2 separate regions of the Homo sapiens genome follow, and region 2 is linked to region 1. The links come from fine-mapping of genetic effects on gene expression. Tissue or cell type: whole blood. Region 1 holds a variant in brackets; the other region holds the start of a gene. All regions are shown on one strand. Distances are between the middles of the regions.

Region 1 (4,242 bases):
CCAAGTAACTTAACTGCCTATCAGAACAAGGTCCACACTTATTAAAAGAATTCAACAAAATCTGGCACCCATAAACAACAACAACAAAAAACAAACAAAATTATATCTACAATGGCTGTCACCTAGTAAAAAGTTACCAGGCAAGAAGAAGAGAAAAATATGACCCATAGTCAGGCTAATAATCAATCAATATGAACAAAATTAGAGATGACAGAGATTATGGAATTAGAAAAGACCTGAACCAGTTATTAGAGGTATGTGCCATGTGCTTGAAAATGTAAAGCAAAACATGAATATAACAACAAGAGAAATGGAAGATATTTTTTAACAGACTCAAGTGGAACATCTAGATATGAAAATATATTCTAAATAAAAAATACACTGAATAAAAGTAACAGCAGACTAATACTATAAAATAAAAAATTAGTGAACATAAAGACCCAACAACAAAAATTACCCAAAATGAAGCACAGGGAGAAAAAAATATTTTTAAAAAATTAATAGGCTGGGCTCTGTAACTCATGCCTGTAATGTCAGTGCTTTGGGAGGCCAAGGCAGGAGGATTGCTTCAGTCCAGTAGCTTGAGACCAGCCTGGGAACATAGTAAGACTCTATATCTACAAAAAATGAAAAAATTAGCTGGGCATGGTGGCATGCACCTATAATCCCAGCTACTGGGGAGGCTAAAGTGGGAGGATTGCTTGAGTCCGAAAGTTACAGGCTGCAGTGACCTATGACCACACCAGTCCAGCCTGGGCAACAGAATGAGACTCTGAAGAAAGAAAGAAAAAGAAAGAGAGAAAGAGGGAAGGAAGGAAGGAAGGAAGGAAGGGAAGGAGGAAGGGAGGAAGGTAGGAAGGAAGGGAGTGAGGGCTCCATGACATTTGGGGAAATATCAAGTTGTCTAAAATATAGTAAATGCAGTTCTAAGAGTAGAGGAGAGAAGGAAAACAAATATTTGAAGAACTAATAAATAATAGTTGAAATTTCCAAAATTTATGAAAAGTGGTAAATGTATAGACCTTAGAATCTCAACAAAACTCAAATGGAATAAACATAAAGAAAAATACATAAAAGCACATTATAGTTAACTTGGTGAAAAACAGTAATAAAAAGCAGCCAGAGAAAAGAAACCCCTTTACGTGTCAAGAAACAAGGTAGCATTAGAGCGTATTTCTTGTAAGAAACTATGCAAGCCAGGAGACAATGAAGTGACATCTTAAAGGACTGAAAGAAAAAACAACGGTCAATGTAGAATTATATTCCCACCAAAAATATCTTTCACAACAAAGACAAAATAAAGACTTTTTCATACAAACAAAAGTCAGTAGACCTCCACTGCAAGACATGCTAAAGGAAATTCTTCAGGCAGAAGGAAACTGATGTCAGTGGAGAATTTGGATCTAACAAAGGAGTAAAAAACAGGAAATGGAAAATATGAGGATATACATAAAAACCTTTTTTTCTCATTCTTTAATTGTAGGAGTTTTAGCACATGCAGCGATAAAGCCAATGACAATAATACTACCAAGGACTAAAGAGGAGATAAATGAAAGAATCTCATACCATATGCAGAGTTGAAGGTAGACTATGATAAGCTAAAGATAAATTCTAGAAGCCAGCACAGTGGCTCATGCCTGTAATCCCAGCAATCTGGGAGGCCAAGGCAGATGGATCATCTGAGGTCAGGAGTTTGAGACGAGCCT[G/A]GCCAACATGGCGAAACCCCGTCTCTACTAAAAGTACAAAAATTAGCTGGGCGTGGTGGCAGGTGCCTGTAATCCCAGCTACTCAGGAGACTAAGGCAGGAGAATTGCTTGAACCTGGGAGGCGGAGGTTGCAGTGAGCTGAGATCACACGACTGCACTCCAGCCTGGGCAACAAGAACAATACTCTGTCTAAAAAAAAATTCTAGAGCAGTCACTAAAAATAAGCAATAACAACAACAAAACTAAAGAAGCACAGCTAATAAACCAATGGTGGAGATAAAATGAGATCATAAAAAAATAAAGTTAGAAAAGGGGGTAAAAGAGGAAGAAAGAAACAAAGAACAGATAAGACAAATAGAAAACAAACAGCAGCATGACATTTTAAAACCATATCAATTATTACATCAAACATAAATCGTCTAAACACTCCAATTAAAAGGGAAATTATCAGTGTGGATTAAAAGACAAGACAAATTATATATTATCTGTAAAGAACCCACTTTAAGTAAAACAACACAGCTAGATTGAAAGAAATGGATGATAAAAAATGACTATGTAAACATTAACAAAAAGAAAACTATAGTGACTATATTAATATCAAGCAAAGTCAGCTTTAGAACAAGGACTATTACTGGAGATGAAAAGGAACATTACATAATTATAAAGAAGTCAATTAATTAAGACATCACAATAATCCTTAACATGTATTCATCCAGTAACAAAGTTCCAAAATACATGAAGCAAAAACTGATAAAATTTAAAAAATAGACAAACTCACAATTATATTTGGATATTTTAATACTCTTCTATTGGGAATTGATAGAACAAGTTGGCAAAAATCAGCAAGCACATAAATGACTTGAACAACACTATCAACAAACATGACCTAGTTGATGTTTACAGAATGCTTATACCCAACAACAGCAGAACCCGTCACAATTATAGCTCATATTCTGGGCCAAAAAAAAAAAAAAAAAAAAAAGTGGAAGTCTCAATGGGCTAAATAAATAAAAAAGAATTCAAATAATACAGAGTATGTTTTCTGACCACAGTGGAATTATTCTAGAAATCAAATAGCAAGCCATCTGGAAAATCCTTAAATACATGAAAATAAATAACACACTTCTAAATAACCCATAGCTCAAATAAGAAATAACAAAAAGAAATTAGAAAATATTTTCATAGGATAAAATTAAAAATACGACACATCAAAATCTGTGGGATGCAGCAATAGTGCTTAGAGAGAAATTTATAGCATTAATTACTTATATTAGAAGAAAATAAAAGTCTTAAGTCCATAGTCTAAGTGTCCATCTTTTTCTTTGAAAAGATAAATACAATTATGAACTCCTAGCCAGACTGATCAAGAAGAGAGAAGAAATTAAATAACAATATCAGGAATAAAAGAGGGGTCATCACTCTAGATCTTATGGTCATTAAAAGGTAATAAAGGAATATTGTAAATAAATTTCTGACAACAAATTTCATAACCTAGAAGACATGGAGAAATTTCTTCAAAGACACAAATTGCCAAAGCTTAGTAAAGGAGAAAGAAATAACCTGACTAAATTTAACTCCCAAACTAATTTTCTGTAACCAGCTTTACCCTGATACCAAAACCAGGCAAAGCCATTACATTAAAAGAAAACTACAGGCCAATCTCTCTCATGAATATAAATGCAAAATTACCAAAATTTGATCAAACTGAATCTAACAATTTATGAAAATAATACATCAAGACTAATGACAATTATTCTAGCATTATTTACAATAGCAAACTTTAAAATGATCCATCTATCAACAGGAGAATAGCTAAATAAATTAAAGATATTAGTATAGCCAGTAAATATGACATATAGAAAAAAATGACATTAGGAAATGCTAACAATATAACTAGAAAAAGTAAATATGCTATGCTCTCAACACGTAATACAGTGAACATAGGGGAGAAATATACCAGATGTTACAAAGCCTTGTAGTAGGCCCTGGAGGTGCCCTGCCCAGTTGCCTCTTACCCCAACTGCTGAGAATGTTGGCTAATGGCTTCGTAAGAATTCCCTTTGTCGGCTGGACGCGGTGGCTCACGCCTGTAATCCCAGCACTTTGGGAGGCCAAGGCGGGTGGATCACGAGGTCAGGAGATCAAGACCATCCTGGCTAACACGGTGAAACCCCGTCTCTACTAAAAATACAAAAAATTAACCGGGCATGGTGGCGGGCACCTGTAGTCCCAGCTACTCAGGAGGCTGAGGCAGGAGAATTGCTTGAACCCGGAAGGCAGAGGTTGCAGTGAGCCAAGATTGCACCACTGCACTCCAGCCTGGGCGACAGAGCGAGACTCTGTCTTAAAAAAAAAAAAAAAAAAAAAAAGAATTCCCTTTGTCCACAGGAGGCAGTATGCAAACTGATATAAATGCTCAGCCCTCTTGACTCAAACGAACTCTGTGGTGCCACTCACATCCTAGAGCTCCCTGTGGGATCAGGCCAAGGCAGGATTTCAGCTGAAACTGCTTTAGGATTCTTTCCCTGCTGTAACC
Region 2 (4,242 bases), 80 kb after region 1:
CTCCATTTAGCACCTGGCATCATACTGCATCTATAACTTTCTCATCTAAAACTAAACTAAATCTGAATGCCAACTTGGCACCCTCGTGGCCCAAACAGCTCACTAATGTCAAAAAAGTTGATCTGTTTGTGATGTTTCAAATATAATCATGAGTATAAAACGAAGGCTTTCCATGGAAAAAATATTTAACTCATATTTCCTTATGTTTGCAGTTTTAAAAAAATAGTTGTTTATAGATCTTAATACTTGATCTTAAATTATCTTCTTTCAACCCTGAGACAATACATTAACCTGTTGTCTAGATGAACGGTAAAAAAACAGGAACACAGAAGAGAAAAAAACAAAGACAATGATGGGAAATAATCTGTTTTTTTTTTTTCATTTCGACGTGGTGGCTTACTGCACGTTACTTACTATGTCGAACCAGATGATTTTAGTAAAAAATGAGTTTAGTAATTTAGTATAACACGTTCAAATGTTTACATACAACGTTTACAGGCAAAAGCTACCAAACTGTTGTGGCCATTGAGATGTTGGAACAATTTTCAAGTTTCATGGTGCATGATCCACAATGCATATGAATACATACAATATCAGTAACAAAAACAGTACAATGTACACCAAAGGTTGTTTCAAAGTCCTCTAATGTCTGCAGTCATGATGAACTAACTGCACTGGCTTTCATTCATTCATTCATAAGACTTATTTTGAAGCTGATCTTCATACTGCATGATTAAGAAACCATCAGTGCAGTGGTCAGAATTACATTCTGCTGTTAACAGAGGAGCAAAGAATGCTTTCAAAGCTACTGCTGTATTTGGAAAAAAGTTCAGTTTTAGTGTTTTCTTTCTAGGTATTTTGCATGGCTAAGGCGGGAGAAGAAGGGCTGCGCGGGGATTGGGGGAAGCGACTTCCCACTCTTGATTACAGAAGGAGAATCATGTATACCACTGTAAAACATCCAACCTTTAAATGAGAAAGTGAGTGAAGTGAAATCGCTCTCACGTACACATCTTCCGCGTTACTTCTTATCCGCCAGCCAAACTTTCTCCATCAATCTGGGTAGGTCTGCCACGAAAACGCAGCCTGAAAGAAATGCTGAGTCCTGAGGCGGCGTGTGTTGCCTCACCCAGTGTTGGCTTTGGAGTTACCTGAAGCCTTCTAGCTACTGCACCCAGAGAGCAAGCTTCTCGTTTCAACTCGGTTGTTTCCGTGGGGAATTGCGGCACGAGCAAGTCCTGGGTGTGGCGATGCCAAGAGAGCGCTCAGATCTCCCATCTTTCCCGCTTCTGGCAAACCTTCCCAGCCCCGAATCGGCGAGTGACCAGCACCCGGGATCAGCCGTCCGGCATTCCGGGGACCGCGGGTGGACCCGACCCCGCCGCAGCTGCAAACTGCCGAAGCGCCCAGCTGGGTGCACTGTGCGTGTGCGCTTCTTCCCTACTCTTTCCGCGCCTGGAGGCGGATCCCCTTCCTTGCACACAAGTCCTTATATGCACCGGTTGCACCAGCCCGCGTTACTCCGGCCCCACAAATAATTAATGGGGGAGGGAGGGTGTCGCTTTTTTTTCCTCCGGCTTTTTCTCAGCGCGAGAGCATTTGAACCGAGGAGAAACCCCAAGACGCGACTGAAGGGCCATTTTGCTGCAGTGCACGAATTGGCCACACAAAAATAGAGCTTGGGTCCCTATGATAACAAGTCAAGGTTCAGGAACAGCCCCTTCGGGTTCGGCCCGAGGAGCCCGCAAAAGCCTGGGCGGAAAGGGTGCGCGCCCCTCCCCCCTCCACGCTGGTGCAGAGGGACCGGGTCAGGAAGCGCGGCCTCTCCCCAGTCCAAGACCACGCCTCCTCCGCCTCCCCACTCCCCCTTCACTCCTCCCAGGAAGCGGTGATAGACAGTTCTGCGTGGTTCTCCACCCCCACCCTCCCCCTGCTGAGTGGAGGAGTTGATGTGTCTCATTATAACAGCCAATGCAGCCGCCATCCACGCACAAGCAAAGAAGCATGTCCCATTTAAATACACCCACGCAGCCCCAGCGCCCTTAGCCGATCGGGGCGCTCAGCCCACACGCACCGCTGCTCGGGGCTTGGAGATCCGCGCAGGCTGGGCTCCCGGACCCGGCGGACCGACGCGCGGAGGATCGGGATCCGGCGCTGTGGGGCTGGGGTGGGCGGGGGAGGCTGGGCCCGGGGCCTCTGGCGCGACACCCGCATGAGGACGCGAGTGAAATAGACCAAGGTGGAATTTCCAAGGGAAAAGCTTCGGGGTGGTTTTGGTCCATTTCTCCAGCGAAGAAGTAGACATGGCGAGCGACTCCCCGGCTCGAAGCCTGGATGAAATAGATCTCTCGGCTCTGAGGGTGAGCAGGACGTTTTCTGGTTTCTTTCCAGTGGTTTGGGTTAGGGTGAATGGGCTCGGTGCGTGGACTGGGGGCTGGGGCTGGGGCAGGGGGACAGCAGCGGGAGAATGCGTCGGGGAGGGAACCTGGATTCCCGTTTTGATTCGGGGTTGCTGAGGTGCTCCTGGCTGAGCCCCTACGGCAGGGGCTGTGCGGTACGTGTCTTCCTCTGGCCGTGGCTTAGGCTCTCCCGAGGGCTCGTAGAGCTTATGCCAGTTTCATCTTATACCGGTGTAAGAGCATTAAAATGAAAGGCGTGTGTGCGTGTGTGTGTGTGTGTGTGTGTGTGTGTACACGCCCCGGGCAGTTGTCTGGTGCCAAGGCGCGAGACCCGACTGTCCCTTCTGCAAAAAGAATGCCAGCGTGAATAAAGGCACTGGCCCCTCACGTTTTCCAGCTACCTGCAAGATGACATTGTGAGGCTGGCTGTCCCCGCGAAGCCGAACCTGCCGCTCCAAGGGGGCAGTTATTGCTATGCTGGTCTTGTAGATGGCAACTGCCTCCCCCTCCCCCTTTTCTACCTCCCGCGCCCGGGCGCCCTCTCAGCGCTCCCTTAAATGCCAGTCTGCCACTCACCTTTATTTATGGCTTTAACTCAGCCCTGCCTGTTCTTTCTGACTTTGTGGCTGTAACGTTTCAGTTTTATGGCTGAACTTAAGCAGGTGAAAGGGATGTGTTTTCTGCTTTTCCTCAATCAGACCGGAACTCCCTGGAGTGTGTGCGAGTGTGTGTGTGTGTGTGTCTGTGTGTGTTTTCCCCGTGTCTGTGGCCAGTCCTTTGTAGAGCACCTCCCTCCCCCCAGCCCCACTGGTTTGCGTTTACCTTCACGTGAATTACCTCAGACGCCGTTTCATTGTATTGACTAAGACATCACTGATATAGAATCCATTTTGCTGTTGTTTTGAGATCAGAATACCAGGAATCCAAGTGCTGCTTCGACGCTTCCCCACCCCCAACTCCCGATCCCAACACACTCCTTTGGGGAAGGGGGCAGAGCTTTCTTGCCATTTTAATTAGATGCTGCCTGCCTGGAAGGGGGTGAGGGGTGGGGATGGTGGCAGCAGCGGGTGTCTGAGAAGGATTGGACACCAATTTAAGGACTGCTTCTTCCTCTCCCGAACCAAAAATAAAATTAAAAAGAAAGCGAGTGCATATACTTGATGTATGGAGGGTGGATGAGAAGGAATTCATGGTGGCTCTCTACAGGGAGACACCAGGATGGATGAAGCATGGAAGTTCACACGCCCTCCTGAGGAATACATTGTTAGATTGATGCTGAATCTTGGGGCCATTTACCTGGATTCCTAGTACTTCTGACATTGCCGCTATCTGCACTGATATATTAAAGTGCTACCTTTGTGATCAAAGTGGTACTTTCTCTTTGGTCTCCTTAATTAAACCTTTTCCTCCACATCTCTTTGAATAAGTCTTTCTCTCTTCGTCTTAATCTGTTGGGCTAAGAGATGAGGTTTCAGCAAGGCAAGTAAGGAGTTGAGAAGAAACAGAGATGCCGTTTGAAATGGGCTGTTCTGATAGTTGGGCAGCCAAAGCTCATTCATGCATTATTACAGGAAGCTGTCTATTTCCCTGGAGTGGAAATGCCACATCAAGAACCGGCTGCCCCCTGCGCAGCGGGGTGGGGTTGGTAACAGGGTGGGTGCATTGGCCAGGTCTGTGGCTTCCTGCTTTACCGACTGTGTGTGTTCATTTGCCCTACTTTCTACGCTGGGAGTTGCTGCCGGCGAGTTAATCAGGTGGATGGATGGCCCCGACTGGGGGTGGGGTGCTGCGAATCGGTCGGAGGTCGGGGTGGGGGGCGGGAAGTGGCAAAGGGGGAAGGGGT

Evidence for each region. PIP is the estimated chance that this variant, and not a neighbour inherited with it, causes the effect.
Region 2: TNIK starts here. The variant in region 1 is fine-mapped to the expression of TNIK in whole blood (INTERVAL, PIP 0.96).

What each region holds. Positions count from the first base shown.
Region 1 is chr3:171,538,537-171,542,778 of GRCh38, reverse strand. No RefSeq gene overlaps it. Among named protein-coding and RNA genes, the nearest start is that of TNIK, 80 kb to the right of the region's middle. The variant G/A (reference allele first, on the strand shown) is at 1,707.
Region 2 is chr3:171,458,125-171,462,366 of GRCh38, reverse strand. TNIK (TRAF2 and NCK interacting kinase) reads left to right here and starts at 1,962. Exons shown (of 33, transcript NM_015028.4): 1 at 1,962-2,360. The coding sequence starts at 2,304. It overlaps LOC102724479 (a long non-coding RNA gene), which reads right to left and starts at 3,149. Exons shown (of 3, transcript NR_189068.1): 1 at 2,976-3,149. LOC124906303 (a long non-coding RNA gene) reads left to right here and starts at 4,196. Exons shown (of 2, transcript XR_007096168.1): 1 at 4,196-4,242. RefSeq lists an enhancer at 761-1,261 and a silencer at 2,273-2,332.